2 separate regions of the Homo sapiens genome follow, and region 1 is linked to region 2. The links come from fine-mapping of genetic effects on gene expression. A gene starts in region 2. The other region holds a variant in brackets. All regions are shown on one strand. Distances are from middle to middle.

Evidence for each region. PIP is the estimated chance that this variant, and not a neighbour inherited with it, causes the effect. A credible set is the group of variants that fine-mapping cannot tell apart.
Region 1: its variant is the best candidate, but not a certain one, in a credible set for the expression of LINC01096 in lymphoblastoid cells (GTEx, PIP 0.82).

The regions. Positions count from the first base shown.
Region 1 is chr4:13,457,886-13,462,280 of GRCh38, forward strand. It overlaps RAB28 (RAB28, member RAS oncogene family), which reads right to left. Exons shown (of 7, transcript NM_001017979.3): 4 at 2,814-2,943. Among named protein-coding and RNA genes, the nearest start is that of RAB28, 24 kb to the right of the region's middle. The variant C/G (reference allele first, on the strand shown) is at 2,421.
Region 2 is chr4:13,546,001-13,550,395 of GRCh38, forward strand. It overlaps LINC01096 (long intergenic non-protein coding RNA 1096), which reads right to left and starts at 1,824. Exons shown (of 1, transcript NR_015450.1): 1 at 76-1,824. It also overlaps a transcript of NKX3-2 not described here. RefSeq lists enhancers at 634-1,134, 1,135-1,635, 3,005-3,299 and silencers at 1,351-1,470, 1,661-1,960.

The sequences.
Region 1 (4,395 bases), 88 kb before region 2:
AAAAAATTAAAACAAATCATAACGCCTCTCCCACAAACACTCTATAATTTCTCATAAGGTAATGCAAAACCTCCAATAAAGCACATACTTAACCATAATATAAGCCAACGCTTTGTATGACAACTAAAATGAGAAGCTGAACCCAGAAACAGAACGTAAGCTCATCAAAACATGATTTGTCAAAGGGGGATTTTCAATGAACTGAAAAGCATCTGATTCACTCAATTAAAAAGAATCATTTGCAAAACAAATGAGCAAAATTTAACTAAAGCTTTTAAAAAAGCAAACTACAATTTCTACCCAAGCCATAACATTTTATGATATGTAATACCATTTTCCAGAGTGTATGATAGTATGACAATGCCTGTATTTTTAACTCCTCAGAGAAATGACATTCACACCTGTGTCATCATGGTTTTAAATTAAGCTTGAACTTATTAAATACTCATCTAGTGTGCAAAGCCACATAATGCAAAAATCTTGGTTTGGTCTTTCAGGAAGCACTGCTTCCTAAACAATTACAGAGAAAAAAAAATGTACTACATTTTTAAAGACCTTTGGAAAAGATAATTCTCTTGGTAATGTATGTAGGTATTGATTTAACAACTCTTGTTGTCAGGAAATAATACCTGACCTAAATCTTCCATGGTAAAATCTGAAATCATTTTCTCTTTTTCTGACCTCAAATAAGTTAGAAAACAACGAATCATATAATATTTCACATACATTCATGTGTTGCATAACAATGTTTCTATCAACAACGGGCTACATATATGATGGTGGTCCCATAAGATTATAATGGAGCTTTTATACCGTATTTTTACTGTACCTTTTCTATGCTTAGACAGATAAATACTCACCATTGTGTTATAACTGCCTACAGTATGGGAACATGCTATACAAGTTTGTAGCCTAGGAGCAATAGGCTGTGCCATATAGCTTAGGTGTGTAGTTGGCCATACCATATAGGTTTGTGTAAATACACTCTATGTGATGGTAAATATTAAGTGTCAACTTGATTGGCGTGAAGGATGCAAAGTATTGTTCCTGCATGTGTCAGTGAGGGTGTTGCCAAAGGAGATTAACATTTGAGTCAGTGGACTGGGAGAGGCAGACTCACCCTCAATCTGGGTGGGCACTCTCTAATCAACTGCCAGTATGGCTAGAATAAAGCAGATTTGCTGAGTCTTCCGGCCTCCATCTTTTTCCTGTGCTGGATGCTTCCTGCCCTCGAACATGAAACTCCAAGTTCTGTGGCTTTTGGACTGTTGGACTTACACTGGTGGTTTGCCAGCGGCTCTCAGGTCTTCAGCCACAGACTGAAGGCTGCACTGTTGGCTTCCCTACTTTTGAGGTTTTGGGACTCGGACTGATCCACTACTGGTTTCCTTGCACTTCAACTTGCAGATGGCCTATCGTGGGACTTTACCTTGTGATCATGTGAGTCAATTCTCCTTAATAAACTCCCTTTCATATATACATCTATCCTATTAGTTCTGCCCCTCTACAGAACCCTAATATATACTCTATAACGTTCACACAATGAAACTGCCTAACAATACACTTCTTAGAACATATCCTGTTGTTAAACAACACATGACTATATTTGAAAACCTTTATTAATGTCTCTTTTTCTAAGTCACTGCATTGCAGAACTAGGAACCAAAAACCAGTCATGTACTGAGTTCAGTTTTATAATTTTTCTCTGCTATCTATCATTTGAGACAGGTCTCAAAATTACTAACAAACCCATAATTTTTACCAAGAACCACTCTTCTCCCTAGTACACTCTTTCTCAAAAAAAAAAAATTATATTTCAGAAAAAAAACAAAAATTTAGAAGAGGAAGTTTATAAGAGACAGGAGCAAGAAACAATGCATATAAAATTCCAATGTAGACACTTCTTTCTTCCCTAAAATAGGAGATCATTCAATGAAATGCATCGCTCAAAACCTCTGGGACAGAGCTGAAACTGCAATGCAATATCATAAAATCTGCAGCTGTGTTGCTGTTCTTCATAATCCATGCTGCTTTCCTAGACCACAGGAAGCCAAAACACACACTGTCAGAACTAAACTTACCTTCACAGGAATTGACCAAAGCAGCGGAGCAGTTATAATAGACCACGCATCAAAACAGTTATTGAAAAGATTGTACACACTCTTAGGAATTTTCTACTCAAATAATTTGCTCACTCCAGAAAAGCTGTTTCCAAATATCAAATATTTCTTTGTAGGAATTAAAACTACAGGATAGGCAAATGTCTCAATAAGTCCTCTGTTTGGGCTGCCATAACAAATGGCATAGACTATGGCCTAAACCACAAACATTATTTCTCAAACTTCGGTAAGTAAAGTCCAAGATCAAGGTACTGACGGATTCAGTATCCAGTGAGGGCATTCTTCCTGGTTCGCAGACAG[C/G]CACCTTCTTGCCTATCCTCACATGGCAGAGAGAATTATCTCTCTCATGTCTCTTATGAAGGCATTAATCCCATTCTCTTTTTTAATTAAATAGAGACAAGGGTCTCACTATGTTGGCCAGGTTTGTCCGAAACTCCTGGCCTCAAGCAATCCCCCTGCCTTGGCCTCCCAAAGTGCTGGGACTACAAGCATTAGCCACTGCGCCCTGCCAGATGTCATTCTTAAGGGCTCCACTCTCATGACCTAATTACCTCCCAAAACCCCACCTCCAGACACCATCATTTTGGGGATTAGGTCTTTGACATATAAATTGGGGGTGGTGGGGGGACACAAACATTCTGTCCACAACAGCAAGTAAACTGTACCATACATAAACAAGCAGTAATAACTTACTTTTATTGCCTACCAAGGCAACCAGTGGCTGAGTTTCTGACTCCTCGCTCACTTTCTTCACCACAGTATACCAATCTTCTAAATTCTCAAAGCTTTGATAATTTGTAATATCATATACCAAGAGGACTCCCTGTCACAAAAGAGTTACAAAATATCTGTAATGTATTATTTGGTGAAAAAATCTTAATGAATACTTGCGTAATGCTTCAGATATGTCAAAATGGGTATAAAAATACAAATGTGTAGTGTTTTATATATAAACTTCCATTTAAATTGCTTACTAGCAGATTGATAATACTGAATGTTTTCATTCAAGATAAATCCAGCAACTAAGATGCAATGCAAGCTAAAACATAATGTTATCAAAATTGTAAGTGGTCTTCCAATAAGATATCTGGAATATGCTTGGTAAGTTACAGTAAATATAAGAAAATCATATCAAAGAAGTAGAAAAGGCTACAACATCTACAATCCTACCTCTCACTTTCATGAGGTCAAGCATTTAAACCTTTCAATAAATAATCATCTGCTGCTACTCTTTTTAAATATTTTCAAAAACAGAGATTCCATGATATCCCTTGATAGACAATTTAAGTGTTTAACACAATTTTCTTTAAATGAAATGTCGATTTCCTCTTTTAGTCCACTGTGCATTTGGAGAACTTGAGAGTATCTTTCTTAAACTAACCCTTCATATACTTGAGCAGAGTTAAGTAACTCCTTTACCATCTCCTTTCCAGAGTAAACAAACTCAGTTCCTTAAACTTGCCTCGAAGGGCCTATTTTTCTATCCCTTTAATCATAGTTGTTGATTCTTCCCAGGACACACTACATATAGTTTTTTGACATCCTCTTTAAAATAAGCAATGTAAAACTGGACGTAATACTGTACTAAGAGTCTCAGCAATGCCAAATACAACAGAAGGATTGCTTCCTGCCTCTTATATATCATATTCCTTTTAATTTATCTCATTATTTTGTGTGGGAAGGAGAAGTATATATGCACACAGAAATAACTACCACATTCTTGATTCTCATCCAGTTTGTGGTCAAACACTTAATACAAAGCTCTACATACAGTATAAGCCCGGACCCTAATGGCATTTATGTCGACTTCTTAGGTTGTAACAGTAGTAATCAACTACTTTTGTGCACCTATTGTATACCAGACACACGTCAAGGTCTCCTCATTAATCCTCACACCAATCATGAAAGGCTGGTATTATTATTCCCATTTTAAACAATAAACAGAGGTTAAAATAACCAAGGTCATACTGATAGGTAAGTGATGGAGCCAGTATTTGAACCAAAGACTAAATAATTAAAAACATTTGTCTGTCAACTAAACTCCAAGCATTGTGCTGGATTCCTACGGATTTAAGTTCCAAACCATAAGGAACTCACAGTCTTGCAGCAAAACTAAACACACAAACAAGTATAGAACACAGTAGTCATAACTAGTGAGACACTGGTAAATATTAATCAATTGGCTTGGGGTTCAGGGCCCAGCAGGGGTGACAGTTTGCCGTAATCTTTGCCAATTTTCATGGTGTAAATGCTAGCCTGCGGTCATTTTTAAGCT
Region 2 (4,395 bases):
ATTAACGTACTTCACTGTTTTCCATAAACTTTACCAGAGAGTTAACACCAAATACACAAACTTGAACCATTAAATACATTTAAAGGACTATGATTTTAATTTATTAAATTGCTAGGATTGGTAGTTTTGGTGTCATTAAAATAAATAACATCTCCCCTTGTTGCTTTCTTTTTGGTTGTTCTTTTTCTGCACCGCAGAAGGAAATACACTGACTATTCATAGTTCTCAGTCTCAGAATGAGGTTTTGCAGCATCTATACTTTTCAGCATTTCGGTTACATGATGCTTTCTTGCTTTGTGCAAACCTTGTAGGGTACCTGGGAAAAAACATCCACTTGAGGTCATTGCCCTTTACAGCTCTTTACAATTACATCAGTTTTGAAGGAACGCCATTTAAATTTGGTGTCAGTGCTCAGCAAGTGTAAGGACGCAGAGTGGAACAGCAGAATGCTTACAGTCTTTCAAAAACAGTGTGTCCTCTCCTCCCCCGCTGTATTATTTAAATTACCGTTCTCCTCACTTCGGGCAGGGATGTTGGGAATTATGTATAGTGAGGAGATTGACACTGGTTGCCTGGAAGGTAGGGGACGGGCAGGTATGGGTTTGGTGTCCCGTACAGCGATCGCTTTGTGGGTTTAGTACTTGGTGCTGACAAATAATGGAGTGAGATCCGAACATAAAGGCAGGCAGAGATGTTTTGGGGCTGAATCACCGAATACTAGAGTAGGTTTGGGGCTACGTAAAGACTTGCTTGAAAACAACTACCATTTAGTTGCGAATCCCTCCCCTCTTCCCTTTGATTCGATGTTTAAAAAGAATCCCAAATCACAGTTGGACATACTCCTGCCACAGCCTTGGGCAGAAGTCTTCAAAGCATGAAAAGATGTGGTTTGGCGACTTTGAGTTGTCGGGTATTTTTGTGTCCCAGGAGTGTGAGAAAGGGGCTACGTTCCGCGTCTTCCGGAGGCGCACAGCAAGGGAGTCTCCTGGTGTCATCTCGGGCCATTACGGCGCTTAGTCGATCATTAGGTCTGTGGGTGACTGTAGGCAGAGCCGGGAGTTGGGTGCTTGGCGCGGAGGGTGAACTCGCGGGTCTTGAGCTGCAACTAGAAGCTGCTCCTAGCAAGGGGTCGGGTGGAGATGAAAAGACTGTGGGGAAGGGGAGGTGGTTGTATGCCCAGAGATATCCCGGCGTAACTACGGAGTCCAGGCCCAGAGTGGCGGTGTGTGGCGAAGGCGCAGCAGGCCTGCGCCTGTCGGAGGACGGCAGATCTGGACGCGACCGCGCGGGCGTGCCTGGGTCCCGCTTCCTGCCCATCGAGGGCGACTTCCTTCGGGCTCAGCTGTGAGCTCCAGGAACTCTGCAACCTCCCGACGGGCGCCACGCTCCGGCTTGGGCCGGCCCGGGAGTTGGCGGAGCTGCGCGGCCCGGCCGGGCGGCCGGTGAGGCTTTCGAGAGGCACCGGGCTCGCTCAGCGTCCGCGCCTCTCTACCCCGCCGCGCCCCCTCCGCGCCCACGGGCCCATTTTTTCCTAGTCTTCTGCCTCTCTTCCTTCTTCCTCCCTCCCCTCCTCCTCCACACCTTTGTCTTCTTCCTCCTCCCTCCTCCTGCTTCTCCTCCGCAGTTTGGATCCTACGGGCCCCCTACGTGCCGCGCCCTTCGGTCCCCGGAACCGCCCGGGCTGGGGGTGCTGCTGCGCGGTGAGACTTCCGCGGGCGGCGGGCGGAGAGCGGGATTTGACTGCGAAAGCCAAGGGGGCGGGGAAGGGGAAGCCCCGGCCCTCGGGGGCGCGCAGTAAACTGCTGCACACGTGCCCGCGCTCCCGAGGGGGGCGCCCAGTGGGCTCGGGATTTCCTGGCTGCGCCACCGCGCGCCTCGCCCCCGACGCCCGCCACCTGTGCCCTGGGCCGCCTTCCCTGACGCCAGCGGCCGGAGGTCGCGCGCGCCGGGTGCTGCCCAGCAACGAAAGGCCATGCGGGGTTCGTCCCTCAGATGCCGGTGACCTTGATTGAAGTCACCTGCCTTCTCTAGCTTCCAGTCCTTTAAAACGAGGGTTTGGACCCGGTGCCTTCTGAACCCGGTGCTTCACTGAGTGAGCAAGTGAAGGGTGTGTGTGTGTGTTTGGGGTGGGGGCGGGGGCGAGGGGAGGGAGGGGCAGCGTTGCCGGCTCCCCAGAGCCAGGTCCAGGCAGAGGTCGCGCCCAGCACTGACCGTCGGTCCCAATCCGCAGACTCCCGAGGGCGATCCAAACCGCCTAAGCATCCCAAGCGTCCAGCACCCGCGCCTGCGTTCCTGAGTAATCCAGCGCCCTGCAGCGTTTTTCATGCACACGATCAAAATATATCAGACTGCAGAGAGAGGCTGTATTGTAACTGGCCAGCTTATAATACTATAAATAATAATATAAAAGGTAGTTTTATATTTTAACAAATATTGCTCACTGACAGTGTGCCAGGAACCAAAGCCTATTGTTTCATTGAATGTACACACCCCTGGGATTGGAATGAGTAGAAAACATTGTTATGCCCGTTTTACAGATGAAGAAACTGAGACTCCTGACTATCAGTAAGTGGCTGTCAGGATTTAAATCAGGCTTTGTCTGATGTCAAATCCAGTTGGATTTTCTACTCTAATCGGCTTTTCTCATTAACCTTATTAATTGTTTCCCATCATAGACCTTACCCATTTTTAATTGCTTATTCATTGGAAAAGGAGCTTCGTTCGGATTTAAGGTAATCAAAGAAAAAATTTAGTCAGACAAATCTAATGACTTTTTTTCTGTTCCACGCATTTGAAAACAAATCACACCAAGGCCTGCGGATCTGAACGTAAACCTCGTTGTGTAGAAAGAAGGAAACACACCATTTTATTATAATCAACAAACTAAACCGTGTGTAGAGGGAGACAGCCAGGTGATGGAAACTCATTAGGTTCAGAAACCAGATTGTGCGCGCGGTTCTGAGACGTAGCCAAGCGACCTCACGCAAGACCCTCTTTGGGGCTTAGTTTTCTTACCTAAAAAGCCAGGGTTGGAGATCACCCCTCAGGGTGTTAAAAAGACGTGCCAGCCTCGAACCCTCCTGGGTATGGTGGAGGACGAGCGCCACCTAGCGGGCATCCCTCTAGGGTTGTGCGTACTTTTATGGGGAGGTACTGGAATAAGTAGTACACGAAACGGACTGTTTTGCTTCTAGTTTCGTGTACACAGCCTCGCGCTGCCAGAGATCTAACAGCGGAGATGTTTCATTTTAAAAACTCACCCAGGCACGATCAACACCTCCATTGAAGACTCACCTCGCTCCAGGGCCAAGGGGAAGGGACTGGAGCAGGACGCGGGCGTGTTGGGATCGGTTTCAGAACGGAGGCCACAGCAAGCCCCTGGCCCACCTCCTACCCTATCCTGCATTCCACAGCTGCTTGCTGTGAGTATATAACCAGAGCTCTCGCTGGATGATCATTTAGGGCACAGGCATCCCTGTGTGTTTTATTGGCGCCAAAGGAATGTTTTGTTTTGTTTTGTTTTGTTTGTTTTTGTTTTTGTTTTTGAGATGGAGTCTCACTCTTGTCACCCAGGCTGGAGTGCAATGGCGCAATCTCGGCTCACTGCATCCTCCGTCTCCCGGGTTCAAGTGATTCTCCTGCCTCAGCCTCCCGAGTAACCAGGATTACAGGTGCCCGCCACAACGCTTGGCTAATTTTTGTATTTTTAGTAGAGATGGAGTTCCACCGTGTTGGCCAGTCTAGTTTCCAACTCCTGACCTCAGGTGATCCGCCCACCTCAGCCTTCCAAAGTGCTGAGATTACAGCCGTGACCCACCGCACCCGGCTAGGAATGGTTTTTTAGAAACTAATTTATTCATGATAGAAACTGAGGTATTTCACCCTAAAGATCAGAAATTTCCGGCACTGAAAACAAACCTCAGTTTCACTCTCTCACCCAAGCTGGAGTGAAGTGGCACAATCTCGACTCACTGCAACCTCTGCCTCCCGGGTTCAAGCGATTCTCCTGCCTCAGACTCCTGAGTATCTGGGACCACAGGCATGCACCACCACGCCTGGCTAATTTTTGTATTTTTAGTAGAGAAGGGGTTTCACTACATTGGCCAGACTGGTCTCGAACTCCTGACCTCAAGTGATCCGCCCGCCTCAGCCTCCCAAAGTGCTGGGATTACAGCCACCGCGCCTGGAAGGGTTTTATTTTCTTATTTAGGTTGTCTATTTGACAGTGGGTGGATGGCATTTGTATTCGGGGGCTTGAGGAGGAGAGCAGGGGGAGGAGCCAGCTTGAATAGGTAAAGAGAAACATGCTGTGGTCAATTGCTTGTGCTGAGTTTCAGATGCTTGTGAAACAAAATGAAAGTCTTCTGGATTTATTATATATTTTTTTCTCTAAAA